Linked DNA regions of Homo sapiens: region 1 is linked to region 2. A link means that fine-mapping ties the variant in region 2 to the expression of a gene that starts in the linked region. Tissue or cell type: ovary. Region 2 holds a variant in brackets; the other region holds the start of a gene. All regions are shown on one strand. Distances are from middle to middle.

Evidence for each region. PIP is the estimated chance that this variant, and not a neighbour inherited with it, causes the effect.
Region 1: it holds the start of PIWIL1, and the variant in region 2 is the best candidate, but not a certain one, in a credible set for the expression of PIWIL1 in ovary (GTEx, PIP 0.59).

Annotation. Positions count from the first base shown.
Region 1 is chr12:130,333,120-130,341,302 of GRCh38, reverse strand. It overlaps PIWIL1 (piwi like RNA-mediated gene silencing 1), which reads right to left and starts at 3,416. Exons shown (of 21, transcript NM_004764.5): 1 at 3,157-3,416. It overlaps LOC101927786 (a long non-coding RNA gene), which reads left to right and starts at 5,063. Exons shown (of 3, transcript XR_242978.5): 1 at 5,063-6,394; 2 at 7,499-7,673; 3 at 7,862-8,183. RefSeq lists an enhancer at 6,123-6,292.
Region 2 is chr12:130,959,060-130,967,242 of GRCh38, reverse strand. ADGRD1 (adhesion G protein-coupled receptor D1) reads right to left here. Exons shown (of 25, transcript NM_198827.5): 3 at 697-780. Among named protein-coding and RNA genes, the nearest start is that of ADGRD1, 9.2 kb to the right of the region's middle. The variant T/C (reference allele first, on the strand shown) is at 4,619.

The sequences.
Region 1 (8,183 bases), 630 kb after region 2:
ACGGTAACAACCCACACATAAGTGCTTGAACTGGATGCAGAACCAAAAGACGTCCAGTGGGACTGGAAAGAGAAGGGGCAAGGGGAGTGGAGGATTTCATGTGGGCAGGGAGCAGACTGCTCAGGGTCCTGCAGACAGCTTGGATACTCAACACATGAGAAACCATCCAAGGTTCTACATAGGGGCAGGCGATGACATCATCTACCATCACTCTGCCTTAAATCACATTATCTTTTTCATCCTCTGAGTTTTAACAGCTTCTAAAATTCTTGGCTTCATGATCTTCACAGAAAGATAAATCTAATGCCATTTTTCAATTTTAAAAACCTCCGACTTCCTATTGTATTTTACAGGATTAAAGCAAATATTCATTGTATAAGACCCCTTACAATATGACTCTAAATCAGCAATTTCCAAAGGAGTTTACACAGGATAATCCGCTGAGGTGCCAGCATATTACAACTAATTTTAAATCTCATTTTAAACTGCTTTGTATTTATTTTATAATGTGCGCATCATGACAATGATTACGTATGCATGCTCGGCTTACACACGGGGCATACTGGCGCATGAAAGTCTCTTACTGATAATCTACAGGCAGCGTCCCCAGCAGCAGCAGCAGCACCACCACCACCACCACCAACCCCCCTCCCCCCACCCCCCCTCCCCCAACCACCACCACCAACCCCCACGCCCCATGGACCTGTACCGGAACCAGGCCACACAGCAGGAAGTGAGCCGCAGTGAGTGAGCAGGACAGCCTGAGCTCACCTCCTGTTAGATCAGTGGAGGCATTAGATTCTCCTAGGAGTGAGAACCCTACTGTGAAGTCGGCGTGCCAAGGGTCTGGGCTGCCTGCTCCTTATGAGAATCTAATGCCTGATAATCCGAGGTGGAACCGTTTCATCCCGAAACCATCCCTCACCGGTCCGTGGAAAAATTGTCTTCCAGGAAATCGGTCCCTGGTGCCAAAAAGACTGGGGACTGCTGATCTACAAATCAATCTGAAAGCATCCGCTTGAGACTCCAGCAAACACAACTTGCTTCCTATCACTATCAATTCCGTGACTCACCCTACACCGTGGCACACCCTCTGCTAACAAAGCCTCACCCTCCTCTGAAACCACAAGAATCCAGTGAACCGCTTAAGGACCAGCTCGCAGGCCATCCCTTGCTCCCTTCTCCGAAAGCCGTTTCCCCGGCGTGACCACGGTCACCCTACTACATGGTAACCTGTTTTCTCCCTCCCCACATCTCTGCACTCCATAGCTTCTCCAACTAGGCTGCGAATCACAATTGATGCCTTTGCACCCAGTCCGTCGCTTGACACCTTACAAACAACGGTGTGAAACAGTGATTAAAAAACAGTGACAAGCTGAACTCTCATCTCCAGCAGGAAATATTCCTAAAGCAGCACGTCAGTTCTCAAAGCCTGGTCCCTGACGGGCAGCATCTGGACTGGCTGGGAACAGAAATTACGGGGTGGGGAGCGGCTCTCAGCCCTCCCGAGTTAGAAGCCGACTGGAAGCAGCCCTCCAGCTGATTCTCATCATCTCCAGGGCCTGAAACCCACGGCGGCGCGCTGTGCTGGTCACTAAATACCTGGGGGGCTCAGCGCTCTACGTCCAGGTTTCCCAGCACAACTCTGGTTTTCAGCTTTATCTCCTTCCAGTTTCAAAACCACCTCAGTCTGGATATTGAATTCTTAAAGTCAGAAAGCAAGTGTGTGCTTCCAATAACCACACTCGCTGGAAATCACCTCTCCGATTCGCTACCAGCTCTGCCAAAGACGCTTCCACCTAACGTCCCTCCGGCGCTGAGCTCAGGACCACGCCGTGCACGTGGGAACCACCACCGCGCCACACGCCTAAAAACCGTTGAGCGGTACATTCTATGCGAGCGGGGTCTCTCTGGCCACAACTTAAAAACGAAAAGAAAAGCGCTCAGAGAACAGGCTGCGCAGGGGTGCAGCCGGCTTTGCCCTGGAGGCCGCCGGGGCTGAAGACGGCGAGAGCATCCATCCCAGGACGCCACCGCCCCGCCGCCCCTTTCCCTCCACAGGTGCCAAGGGCCGGGCCGCCAGCACCCGCGAGGACCCCCGGGCCTCGCAGAGCCCGGCCGTCGCGGTCGCCGCCTCACTTGGGGTCCTCCGGAGTTCCGTCCTCTTCCCAACGTCCGGCTCCCAAGGCTCCCGGGGGCGCAGCGCAGCGGCGGCGGACGCGGGAAGGGGCCCTCGCCCTCCGCAGAGATCGCGCCCCGCGGCCGCGTGGGTAGTGCGGGAGGTCCCGAAGGCCCTCCTGCAGAGCTCTCAGGTCCCCGCAGTCTCACGCACGGCCGCCAATGCGGAGACCTCCGCCCCCGCACCCCCGGCAACTCAGGCCTCAGCCTCTCACCCCGGCCCCTGCACCTGGGACCTCGCCCCCGCACCCCGGCCCCTGCACCCCCGCACCCCGGCCCTACAGCCCCGGCAAGTCGGGCCTCAGCGCTTCCCCCCGGCCCCGCACCCCCCACACCTGATACATCGCCCCCGCACCCCGGCCCCTGCACCCCAGGCTCCTGCATCTCCCAAACCTGGGACCTCGCCCCCGCACCCGGCTCCTGCATCCCCCGCACCTGGGACCTCGCCCCCGCACCCGGCTCCTGCATCTCCCACACCTGGGACCTCGCCCCCGCACCCGGCTCCTGCATCCCCCGCACCTGGGACCTCGCCCCCGCACCCGGCTCCTGCATCTCCCACACCTGGGACCTCGCCCCCGCACCCGGCTTCTGCATCTCCCGCACCTGGGACCTCGCCCCCGCACCCGGCTCCTGCATCTCCCACACCTGGGACCTCGCCCCCGCACCCGGCTCCTGCATCTCCCGCACCTGGGACCTCGCCCCCGCACCCGGCTCCTGCATCCCTTGCACCTGGGACCTCGCCCCCGCACCCGGCTCCTGCATCTCCCACACCTGGGACCTCGCCCCCGCACCCGGCTCCTGCATCTCCCGCACCTGGGACCTCGACCCCGCACCCGGCTCCTGCATCCCCCGCACCTGGGACCTCGCCCCCGCAACCCGGTCCCCGCACCTCGAGCCTCACCTCCACATCCCGGACCCCCAGCCGCCGCCCCCGCATCCCGGCCCCCGCACACCTAGCACCTCAGCCTGGCCCCGCACCTTGGACCGCTGCCCTCGCCCTAGTCCTGGTCCTTGCACCTCAGCCCGAGGCCAACAGCCCCAACGGCTCCCGCGGAGATCCCTCCGCGCCGCCGACCTCCCAGGACCTCCTTCGGCCCGCGCCCACCTCGCCTTCGGCGCTGGGTTCCCGAGAGAGCCAGGGACACGCGGGCAGCGAGCAACAGGCGCTCTTTTCCCGGGCGGATGAACACCGCCTCCCGGGCGCCGGCCTCGTGTCTGTACGCCATACGCCCAGTAACGGCGGAAAGCGGCGCGCGCCACGCCCTCATTGGCTGCCCCGCAAACGGCGGTTTCTGATGTGGCCGGGGCGGGACCAGAGGAGCCCCGCCCCACAGGCCCCGGCCCCGCCCCTCCAAGACCCCGTCTGGCCCCTCCCGGACACCCGGCACAGGCCCAACAAGCCAGGCCCGCCCCGCCCCACAGGCCCTGCCCCTGGCCCCCCAAGACACCGCCTGGCCCCGGACAGACACCCCGCACATGCCCTGGCCCCTCCCCATAGGCCCCGCCCCCATCCCGCCAAGACCCCGCCTGGCCCTGCCTAGACGCCACGCCCAGGCCCCCACAGGCCCCGCCCCCGCCCCACAGGCTCCGCCCCTGTCCCCCCAAGACCCCGCCTGGCCCCGCCCAGACACCCAACACGTGCCCTGCCCCCTCCCCACAGGCCCCGGCCAGCCCCACCCAGGCCCCGCCCTGTTCCTCTTCTGCTTCGCCCAGACCCCCGGCCTTCCCTGGCTTGACTCCTGCAGTTCCCCCAGTGCCAGCCCCCTGCAGGCGGACACGGGGTCGGGCCAGTTCCCTACTAGCTCGTGGAACTGGGCGGCGGCGCACGAAGTAGACCCTCCATAGACTTCGAAATGGTGCCCACGTGGGCACCGAGCGCCCTACTGTAGCAGTGGACTCGATCTTGGTCTGGCCTTTAACGTCGGAAGCTCTTTCACTCAGCACACAGAGATTTGAACTTTGACCCCAAAGAAAATAAAACTGCAATGCAAGTCTAAGGTGCCAGGAGGCCGTTACCTGGAAATTTAGCTTTCAATGACTTGTGCCTTGGGTGCATGCCAACGTGGACCGCAGGGGTTCTCAGCCTTCACCTGCGGGGGATCACCTGCAGGGCTGGTTAGGACACAGACCAGAGATTCCGGTCTGCAGGCTCCACAGGTGGGCCCCGCCGGCTGCATTTCCAAGGCATCGCAGGTGGTAGCGACCGGGTCTACGCCGAGCTAGGTGCCCTCCATAGGAGTTAATTTCCTCATGGAGGCAAAGTCAACAGCCACAAAACAACCGGAAATATTGTAAGATAGAACAGGTTTATTTGTCAAGGTGGAAGTGGGACTGAGGCTCACTAACTGCCTGACCTGTTATGTTCCATAACTATAAACATGATTGTAGGAGGTAGTAGAAATAGGGTCGCCTCTGCAGACAGGTTTTAAAACTGCATTTATACGGTAAACATAGTGCTTTTCCTTTTTTTTTTTTGTGAGACGGAGTCTCACTCTGTCGCCCAGGCTGGAGTGCAGTGGCAGGATCTTGGCTCACTGCAACCTCCGTCTCCCAGCCTCCTGAGTAGCTGCGACTACAGGCACCCACCACCATGCCCACATAATTTTGTGTTCTTTGTTTTGTTTTGAGACAGGGTCTGGCTCTGTCAGGCTGGAGTGCAATGGTGGGATCATGGCTCCCTGCAGCCTCGACCTCCTGGGCTCAGGTGATCCTCCTGCCTCAGCCTCCCCTGTAGCTGGTACTACAGGTGTGTGCCACCTGTAGTAATTTTTTTGTATTTCTTGTAGAAATACGAGAAATACACCCAGCTAATTTTTTTGTATTTCTTGTAGAAAGAGGGTTTCATCATGTTGCCCAGGCCGGTCTCAAACTTCTGGGCTCAAGTGATCCACCCATCTTGGCCTCCCAATGTGCAGGGATTACAGGCATAAGCCACAGAGCCCGGCCTACATATTGCTTATTATTCATACTTAAAAGCGCATGCCTGGGAATCGGGGGCTGGAGAGGGCTGAAGGCTCCCCAAGCCACCTTCCCAAATCCTACGTCTCATCTGTGCCATGAAAGGGGCAGGTTAGATGTCAGCGTTTCCCACACTAGCCTGAGTGTAAGCATCCACTGAGGGAACTTCCAAATAATACAGACTCCCAGATCACGCTGATTCCAGGAGGTCTGGGACGGGTGCAAGGAATTTCAAGAAGTAACATCAAGTTATTCTTATGCTCAGAGAAGGCTAATAAATTTGGGGCGAGGCCAAAAGGCGTTGGAAGCCAGTAGTTTGAAAGAAAAATAGCTTTCCAAAGGCTTTCGCTTTGTAAAAACTAAATGGTGCCTTTTGGAATACAATGTGAACATAACTTTTCCAAGGATTTAAGGTGTTGATGAGAAAGACATTCTGAGACCTGCCAGCAGATGGAGCCATAAAACAAGAAATAGATGTTTACAGCCTCAACTCGGGAGAAAAATACCGTGAATGCACCTTACACTATAGAAGTAACACTTTTCCCTCTGCTTTATTTTCTCTATATGCTAAACTCCTTACTTGCCTCTGCTAAAGAACATCGCTGGAGTGTCTTGGTGTGTGAAGTATGAAATAGTTTCTAAAGACATAAGTTGTGATATAGCAAGACAGAGGCAAAACCCCTCATTCTTCTGAGAGTGTAAACATCATGTCGCAAGAAGCTCACCTAAAATTTGAAAAGGAAAACTCAACGAAAATTTGAAAAGAAATTCAAGGAAAAAAAAATGTGACCTTTAAAATTTCCATGTTGACAGCACCACCAGGACCCCTTCTGGGATCCGTTGCTAGGTATAACTTCGTGCCTGACTCTGGAAGTTAAAAAATGAATAGTTACAGATTCTTTTTCCGGGAGCCGCCTCTAGAGGGGTGTACCCACCAGGGAAGGTGAGCAGAGTGCCACCAATCCTGTGGGTGCTCAGCGGGAGGTTGCTGAGGGATGCTTCGTGACTCAACGCTGCTGAAGCCCTGAAGGCTGATTTGGGTTTGCAGGGAACAGGAGGATCGGCATGGCGGAGCACGTTGGTCTGAGCACATGTGAGGTGTTTAGAAAACTGCAAGTCATCCAGCACGGGAGCAACGCCAGGCACAGGCAGGGGAGTCGTAGGGGATGATGCTGCAGAAGGGACAGACCGGGTTCTAGAAGTTGGCGAGCAAGGAAATGTGAGCATCTGGACTGCCGAACGCACCCTGTTAAGTGCTGTGAGTAAAACACACTCTGTCCTCCCATTGATGTGAATAAAACACACTCTGCCCTCCCGCTGATGGCCCAACAAGGGAAGCAGGGAGTGTGACAATTGGGAACGTGGATGCTGACCTGAAGGGCCAGTGGCTGCTTAGTCCTAGCCAGTTACCAGGAGAGAATGAGGGCTCAGATTTGCTGGGCCTCACATGATGGCTTTGGTTGTTGTTGTTGTTGTTTTTTTAATTGAGGTGAAATTCACATAACACTACATTAACTATTTTACAGTGAACAATTCCATGATATTTAATGCGTTCATAATGTTACGCAACCCCCCACCTCTAGTTCCAAAACATTTTCATCATCCCAAAATAAAACCGTCACTCTCCATCTCCCTCTTCCCCCCACTACCCTGGCAACCACGAATCTGCTTTCTGTCTCCTTTCCTGTTCATTTCATAGAAACGGGGTCATACACTAGGTGGCCGTTTGTGTCTGGCTTCTTTCACTCAGCGCCGTATTCTCAAGGCTCACCTACGTCGTAGCCCGTCAGAGCTTCCGTCCTCCTTACGGCTGGATCTTACTCTGCTGTTTGGACGGACCACATTTTGTTTATCCACTCATCCATTGGTGGACAGCTCAAACGTTTTTAAAGGGGAGCAGGAAACTTGGACATTTTCCGGTGCGTTTTTAGGAATGGCCACCAGTGCTCTCTAGTGTTGGGCAGAGGAGCATCCCAGGGAAGGGAAACAATGGAAGATACTCAGAGAACAGAAAAATCCCAAGTTACTTCATGTAAAGCTGAAAATATGATCTGGGTAGATTATGCTGGGGGTGACAGGGACTAGATGGAAAAGAAACTCATCATGAACCCTGCATGCTGTGTCCAGAGCTTTGGACTATATTCTGTAACCAATCAGTTTCCCAAGTTTTTAAAGCAGAAAACCACATACTCAGAGCAAGCTTTGACCTAGTTCCTTTCATTCAAGGATCTCAAAGCCCCTTTAAACCCATGATCCAGATTTTGTTTGTAAAGGAAGAGATGGAGTTGAAAAACAAGATCTAAGGCAGTTCCTATGAATCCCTTCAATGTAATTTTTCAGAGCATTTCCCTTCTCCCTTCAGACTCATGTCGTTCTGATTGGGCTGAATTGAAGAGCTGCCCAGCCTCTCCCCTGGCCCTGAGACCCCTGACCTAGAGGGACTAACTAGAGGGACGGCATGGCAATGGCAAGTGTACCCAAGACAGCATGCCCGGAGGTTTATCCAGGAATATTCATCCAGAGGGAAAGAGCAATGGGTGAGGCTGAAGTTCGTCTGTTCTCTTATATACAAAATGTGAACAAATCCTGAATATCACAGTCTGGCCACAAGGGGGATGTTTTGGGGTGGGCAGGGTGACGGAGGCAGGGGGTCCTGACTTGGCTCCCCAGGAAGTGGGTTCTGTTCTGTTCGCTTAAGCTCTCTGCATTCTTTTTTCCACGCTAGACGATGAGCATGTTGGACCAGATGGGCACGTGTCCAAGTGCACCCTATGGAATGTATCAGCATCGGCCTCGCCTGGAAGCCTGATAGAAATGCAGATTCCCAGGCCCTGCCCAGGCCTGCTGTATCCGGATCTCTTGGTGGTGGAGCCCAGGGATCTGCATGTCACGAGCTTGCTCAGAGTATCTGTGAACTGAGTTCAATCCACAGCCCTCTACTCCAATGCTAGCCAGACCCTGGGGCCATTGCCTCTCCCCCCACATGCCCCTCCATACTGTCAGCACCTCTGCATTGTGGCCTTTCTGCCACCCCCAACCGACTTGGG
Region 2 (8,183 bases):
GATGTGTGGGGAAGCTGACTGGTAGATGGGGATGCGTTTGCTGAATGAAACGGGGGCCCTTCAAACATGTGAGTTGGTCTTAGTTGGCATGACCTTTGACATCTGCTTCATCAATAGGCCCCTGCTGTGGTCAGTGTGCAGATGACGCTAGTCCATTCAACGTAGAAAACAGACGCCTGACTTGCACATAGAGGCATCCTCAGGCCAGCTTCTGTTTCAAGATTGTTGGGGAAAATGCACATTTTAATCATATTTTGAATCAGAAATTCTCCCATTCAATACGCAATAGCTCTCTCTATAAAAATTCTAGTAAAATGCTTCGTGGCCTGGCACAGTGGCTCACGCCTGTAATTCCAGCACTTTGGGAGGCCAAGGCCAGAGGATTGCTGAGGCCAGGAGCTTGAGACCAGCCTGGCAACATAGCAAGACCCCATCTCTACAAAAAAAAAAGCTTTGAAATAACTATTACGGGAAGTTACACAAGTATTTGTTCATCTCTATCACCGTGGCTTCAAAGCAGATTGTGTCCACATCTGCTCCCCGATGGCCCTGGGATTCCCCGGCCCACAGTCACTCTCAGCACCCACGTCCCCCAATGGCCCTGGGATTTCAAGGCCAGCCACTCTCAGCACCCACGCCTCCTGATGGCCCTGGGATTCCCGCGCCCACAGCCGCTCTCAGCACCCGCGTCTCTACCTCCAGTTGTATCCTGAAGTTCATGGATCCCATCCACATTCTCCAGTGGCCAGTAATGGGAAGCAGACGCCAACACCTGAAATCCTTGGGGAAAAAAGAATAAAAATTTTAAATCATCATTAGAGAGGAAAGAACCAGAGGGTAAGAACCGCTTAGCACACACATTATGGGGGAAGAGTAAAAGGATCCCATGTCTGTGGGAGATACTGAAAGCATATTTAATAAAATTCAACACACACTCTTGGTTAGAAAAAGAAACTCTTAAATTAGAAGTTGGTAAATAGTTCCTTAACTGGACAAAACAGGGTAAATAGGAATAGATGCCTCTTGTTGCATGAAAACAGAAGCCACTGCATTTACTGGTGACACACTAGAAGCTTGCCCATTCATGTCAGGAAAAGATAAGAATGTTCCATATCCCGCTGTTATTTACCATTATTTTAGAGTTAATATCAATGCAATCACACTATAGAAACAAATAAGGGTAAAATCATTTTAAAAGAGGAGAAAACTAACATGAATGGTATGCCAGACACTGAGGTCCTTAACAAGCACTTCCTCACTTCATGCTAACAATAATCTATAAGAAAATTGAATTCTTAGCCTATTTGTAAAGACAGGAAATGAAAGTCTTGCACAAAATCACACTGCCAGCTCATTGTAGACGCAATACTCACTTTCTCAATTTAATCCTGGTCATTCTATTTTCCCTCTATGCTTCCTCCACACTAAGCATTACTCAGTTTGAAATTTCCTTCGTGATCCTTATACTTTGAGTAAACATAACTTTATGCAGGTATGTTATTTTCTATTCTGCTCTTCTCATTGAATGCTATATGAATTATTTCTTTGTTTCTATCTAACCCTCATAATTGAGTTTGGGTAACAGTCTCTTGAGTGGCTGCCCCATAACATGTTATGCCATTCTTCTGTTAATGAACAATCAATAGCTTCCATCCTTATTCGTACAGGTGGCGCTGACATGAGTGGCTTTATGCATACAATTTTAGTCTTCTCGGGGATTAGTCCTCTGGGATTCATTCACAGAAGTGGAAATAATGGTTCAGATGACTAAACAATAATCAACTGCCCCAAGCGACTGCTAGATCATAGAAAAGGACAGACTAATAGTCTCTATGTTAGTCCTTGTTTTTTTAAAAAAAATACTTTTTAAAGAGGAGATAATAAGATCATTATTTTCAAATGATGTATGCCTGATAACCAAAGTGGAAAACGATTACAAATAAGAAAAGAATTTCGTCAGTGAAACACTATTACAAACAACAAAAGAATTTAGCAAGGAGGCTTGTACAAATTTAATATACAAATGTCAATTGCTTTTCTGTATTCCAACAATAATGCTACAAAAAAAGAAGAGTTCTCCTAAGTGCAGCCAACAAAAAGAAAATATTTATGAAAACAAGAATAAGAATTGTACAAGATTTTCATGAAGAAAATAAAAAATAATAATTCTGAGGGATGTGAAAGCACCCTCGAATGCATGAAGGATTCAACCTATTCTTGGAAAAGCCGACTCAATGTCGTAAACTATACTTTAATCTATGAGTATTAGAAAATTTGTTGTAAAAATGCTGAGAGAATTTTGTGGGGGACATATCTGATTATGGAGTTTATATAAAAAATAAGAAAGAAAATCTGGAGAAGAAACAGAAGAGGATAAAGAGAGGAGATTCACACTCAATGATAAGGCACAGCATGAAACTACAATAAAGATGGCTGATTGTTACACGCGGATAGACAGTTCAGCGGGAGAAAAATCCACAAAGATGCCTAAGTACATATGGAAATTCAGTTTGTGATAAAGAGGGTCTTTTATTTTTTATTTACTTATTTATTTTTTGAGATAGAGCTTCGCTGTTGTTGCCCAGGCTGGAGTGCAATGGCGCGATCTCGGCTCACTGCAACCTCCGCCTCCTGGGTTCAAGCAATTCTCCTGCCTCAGCCTCCCAAGTAGCTGGGATTACAGGCACCGACCACCATGCCCGGCAATTTTTGTATTTTTAGTAGAGACGGGGTTTCACCATGTTGGCCGGGCTAGTCTCGAACTCCTGACCTCAGGTGATCCACCTGCCTCAGCCTCCCAAAATGCTGGGATTACAGGCGTGAGCCAACGCGCCTGGCCCCAAAGCTGGTCTTTTAAATTAGAGGAGAAATATTATTCAACAAAGACATTGGAACCAGTTCACCACATGGAAAAAATTAAGATCCCAACCTCACTCTTTATACCAGAACAATTTCCAGATAGATCAAAATTTACATGTAATAAAATAAAACAAAACACAATCAGAAAACAAAGTTTTCTGTGCATATTATATAATATGTATTATATAATACATATTACAGAAGGGTACTGATTTCTTTTTAGAGGTATTAAACGTATTATATTAGTACAACTCCTACTATTAAAAAGAACCAACCGAATATTGAGGCAAAGGAGATAATCAAATAGTTCAATGAAAAAGAAATAAAAATTACGTATAAATATATCAAGTGATGCCCAACCTTGCTCATAAGTTTAAAAAGTATATTAAACAACAATGAGCCTATCAGAGTTCACCCATCAGACTGGCAAGCAAAAAGTTAGCTATACTAAGCTGGCAACTTCCACCACATTTCTGATGGGAGTTCAAATCAGTACACCCCTTCTGAAGGGTAATTTGGCAGTATCTATCCCAATTTTAAGTGTACATTCCCTTTGATCTAGTAATTCCACCTCTAGGAATTTATTCTAGAGATACACTCATACATATGATCAAAGACCTCTGTGCAAGGCTTGTTTGTTGTAGAATTTTTTAATAGTATCAGAAACCTGAGAACAGCCTAAATGCTCATCTACAGAGCGCTGGCTAAATAAATATGGCACATCTACACTCTGGACTGGAATACAGCTGGGACGAATACTAAGGTTCATAAATGAACTTAGATGGCATATTCTTTCATTGATATTGTCTAATTTTTAAAAAGATGATAAAAATGTGTACACTATGAGCTATTTGTGTAAAATATAGTTGGTTCAGGGCAGGGATGGAGAGAGAAGAAGAGAGAGAGATGTCTGGAGAGATACTGCAGAAACCAATACTGCTGTTTTGGGAGTGAAGAAATCGAAAAGCTGAGTGCGAGATGTAAGAAGAAGATTTACATTGCATTATCTTTCTGTTCTATTTGAATTTGAATTTTTCTTTCTTTTTTTTTTTTTTTTTTTTTTTGAGACGGAGTCTGGCTCTGTCGCCCAGGCTGGAGTGCAGTGGCGCGATCTCGGCTCACTGCAAGCTCCGCCTCCCGGGTTCACGCCATTCTCCTGCCTCAGCTTCCCAAGTAGCTGGGACTACAGGCGCCCGCCACCACGCCTGGCTAATTTTTTGTATTTGTAGTAGAGATGGGGTTTCACTGTGTTAGCCAGCATGGTTTCGATCTCCTGACTTCGTGATCCGCCCGCCTCGGCCTCCCAAAGTGCTGGGATTACAGGCGTGAGCCACCGCGCCAGGCCTCTATTTGAATTTTTCAATCTGTATTCCTTTAGAAATATTTTAAGGCTTGCTTTCACAATTGAAGTGCCATAGGTAGTTATGAACATACCATCATTTTCAGATAACTGACGCACCCCATGTAATATCTGAATTTTTGTTCACAGGGCGCCCAACATCCACACGTGTCCTGTTCCTTGGTTCCACTTTTCAATTTGCATCTGTCCCTCCAGTTTTATGTACACAAGCTCAAAATGTAAGCCAGGAACAAAGTTAACTCTGTAATATGAGCTAAAGAGAAGTATCTAAACAATAACTTAAGTGTCTTGTTACTCTCTAAATAAAATAGCCCTATCTAGATAAAGTAGCACATTAGAAAGTAAGGCCTGACTTCAGTTGATTTCCAGTGGGGATAGTTCTACTATTGTAATGCAATA[T/C]GAAGAATCTGAAATGCAAAAATCAAAAAGATTCATTTTCATTCCCACTGTGCTTTTTTTCCCCCTAAAGTCTAGGATATTCATTTTGAAGAGGACAAAACCTCATTGACTTGTTATTCAAGTCATCTGGGAAAAAAAATTGTAAAAGGAAATAACATCTGTTATACAAAGAACAGATGTGTCTTCAGAATCCTCATCTTTATAAAATAAACCCTGTGGACGATAAAGCCCTTCCCATTCTTTCCATTTACAAATGGCCACAATCAGTCCTGGCAGAAAGGCTGACAGAGTAAAGTGATGGTGTCTCGTTCACCCCAAAGCCAGCCAGAGTTCATAGGTGGCCAGTGATGAGAAGAGCAGGGTTGAGGCCAGAACACTGCCTTCTCTCCACACCACTGCACTTCAGACAAGTGTAAAACACCTCAGTTGCCACAGATGTTTTGCAACTAGCAACACTGACTGGAAACAAGCAATGAAGGGGCTGCAAGCTGTGACACCCGCAGGGGACGGCGAGTCCTGAGAAGTGACTGGACAGAGTCCAGGGATGGCATCCAAGGTAGTTAACAAGCTGGAAGGCACAGGCCAGACTCATCAGAGCAGATGCTGGAAACCATCAGCTGGCACCACTGCAGTCGTAGGGCAGGAGAGGCGGAGGCGACGTGGAAAACTGTGCCCTGTCTAAATTAAGTAGTGCCTCCTGATGCCGAACGAAGCATTGCGGCTCTGCAGGAAGCTTTGCCCAGGATTGTCAGGTCTTCATTTTTTAAAGCAGAGTCAGAAATTCAGATTTTTTTTTAAAGCAAAATCTATCAAAATTTTAATGTTAGCAATTTTTTAAAATAAAACATTGTGTGGTGCTAATGGGATGGGCTGAATTCAGCCCACAGGTTCCTTTTCCAACTCAAGGAGTAAAATAACTCATAGTCCTACAAGTTTCATCAGAGCAAGAAAGTCTCATTCTTTCGGGAAAAAGGCACTCTGTGGCATTTTTCCCATTGAGAAGGTGGCATGAGACCACCTAACTCTGCAACCACCTTGATTTTCACCAAACTCTTCTAAAGACTAAACGTCTTCTTAGGCAGGTCAGCCAGCCAAGCAAAACCATGGCCCATTTGAGGACTCCAAAACAACCCCAGCCTGCAAAACAAGTAGCAGGGGACAGAGCCAGAGAGAAAATGGAGGAGGGGTGGGGAGGAAGAGAAAGAACGAGAGAGAGAGAGAGGAAAGGGCAGAGAGAAAAAGGGGTATTTTCAGCCCACATCACCACAGTTCTTCAGAAATAATTTATCATCCATATGTAATGTTTTATTAAGTTTGGTGTGTGCGTGTGTCAGAGACAGACATAGGAGAGAGATGAAAGACAGAGTATTAATACTCAAAACAACTTAATAAAACCTTTAATTTTTCCTTTTCCATTTTTCTTCCAGATTTCCCTATTCTTCTTCCTTCCCTGTTACTTACTCCTTGTGTGCGTTCAGGGAAACCTTTATCCCTTGGTTTCCTGCAGGGAAATAATCTTCAGTGTTGCACTGACTTGGTCCAGCTGGAATCTATATCACACAGAGGAATGCCGGCCCCTGCCGATGGTCGGGCTGGCTTCGTGGCTCCATCCTCCTTGGCCTCCAACACATGGAGCTCATTTTTCCTGCATAACTTTGCCTGCTGTTCCCACTGCCTGGAATGCTGATCCCCACGTTTTGTGTAGCTCATCCTGATTCAGGTCTCAGTTCACAGGACCCCTCCCCTCATGCCACCCCTTCGTCGCCACCACCATCCACTCTTTCTTTCAGGTCCTTATTTGGTTTTCTCATGGCATTTACTATTGTTTGGGATTTTTTTGTTAGTATATTTGTGTGTTGTCTCCTATATCAGACTCTGTTCCTTGAATGTTCTATTTACATTGTATCCTCCATGTCTAAGACAAGGGGCCCAGGAGGTGTGTGTGTATGTGTGTGTGTGTGTGAGAGAGAGATTTTTGCATTTGAAATCTCCCAAATTTTTAATGTTAGCAATTTAAAAACTAACTATACAGGTAGAATGAATGATAAAATGCAAAAATAAATAAATAAATCAATAAACATAGAATATAATTATCTGTATAATTCTAGTATTTAGAAAATCTCTATTTGCCAAATTTCCATTTCTTCAATCGGATATAAACATTGTTTTTTTAAAATTCTATTATAAATACTATGAAGATGAAGAATCCAGTTTCTGCCATGGCCTAGCAGTTCTGACAGTTCTTTAGAAACTCTAAGGCATGATGGAGATCTAAGGAATGATAATTACTGTAATTATCTGCTTGGCCTCCCAGACCCCTAAATAGAGCGGGTGAAGTGAGCCGCCCCAAACTTCTGGAAACGGCTGGAGCCAGCTGTGCCATGTGCCCCAGGACCAGGAAACTGCTGGGTAATGACATGCTTTGGGTTTGTTTTAAGTTCTCTTTTCCTCATTACAAATGTCATGTATAAAATGGCATGCTTATAAACTTTTTAAGAATGGCCTGCAATTTATTGGCCAGTGCCATTTATGGATTCAGATTAATCAACCATCACAGCTTCATAAGGCTGTCCCCTGGGGAGCAGAGGCAAGAAATTGGGCCGCCTGAGGCCCTGGAAAAGCTTCCAGATGTGGGGAGGGGCCCGGACTCTGCCGACCCTGGATTTCCCTCTCCAAACCTACCTCCTGGCTTCCCTGTAAAGTGAGAAGTGGCTCAATAGTCCCCACGGTCCCTCAACTACGACATTCTATAATGCCTCCAGAATGACCATCTATGGTCACAGATAAGCACAGAGTATGCAAAGGCTTAAAATGATTTCAAGTTGTTTGGCAATTACTTACAAAATGAAACACCTCTCTACATGGTAAAGATCTGGCAAATATCTGGCTACCTCTGCCAGTGTAGACAGGCAAACCAGGTAATACAAGCCAAAACAGCCACCTGTGAGCCGAATGCATGCTGGTTGGCTAGCTTTATTGACGCGGTTTACCAGATGACTAGCAAATCTTCAGTGACTGTGCACAGACAAGTCAATAAATATATAGATATTTTTTGAGACAGGGTCTCACTCTGTCACCAAGGCTGGAGTGCAGTGGTGTGATCACGGTTCACTGCAGCCTTAAACTTCTGGACTCAAGTGATCCTCCCACCTCAGCCTCCCAAGTAGCTGGGACTAGAGGCATGCACCACCATGCTCAGCTGAATGTTTATTTTTTATAAAGGTGGGGTCTCACTATGTTGCCCAGGCTGGTCTTGAATTCCTGGGCTCAAGTGATCCTCCTGGCTCAGGCTCCCAAAGTGCTGGGATTCCAGGAATGAGCCACTGCGCCAGCCCAACAAATATTTATTGCGTGTCTCCTATGCATAAGGCACAGTGCTGAGTGCCAGAATCAGAAAACAAGAAATGCTTAATAGTTCTGAGAACCTTTAACAAAATACTACAGTTTGGTGTGGCCGTGGTGGAAAGTAGGCTGGCGTTTGGAAGATCAGGCTCTCGCTCTATACTGGAGACTCCTCCTTAAGGCTCCCCCAGCACCTGAGCGAACCTATGTCCCGGTACTGACC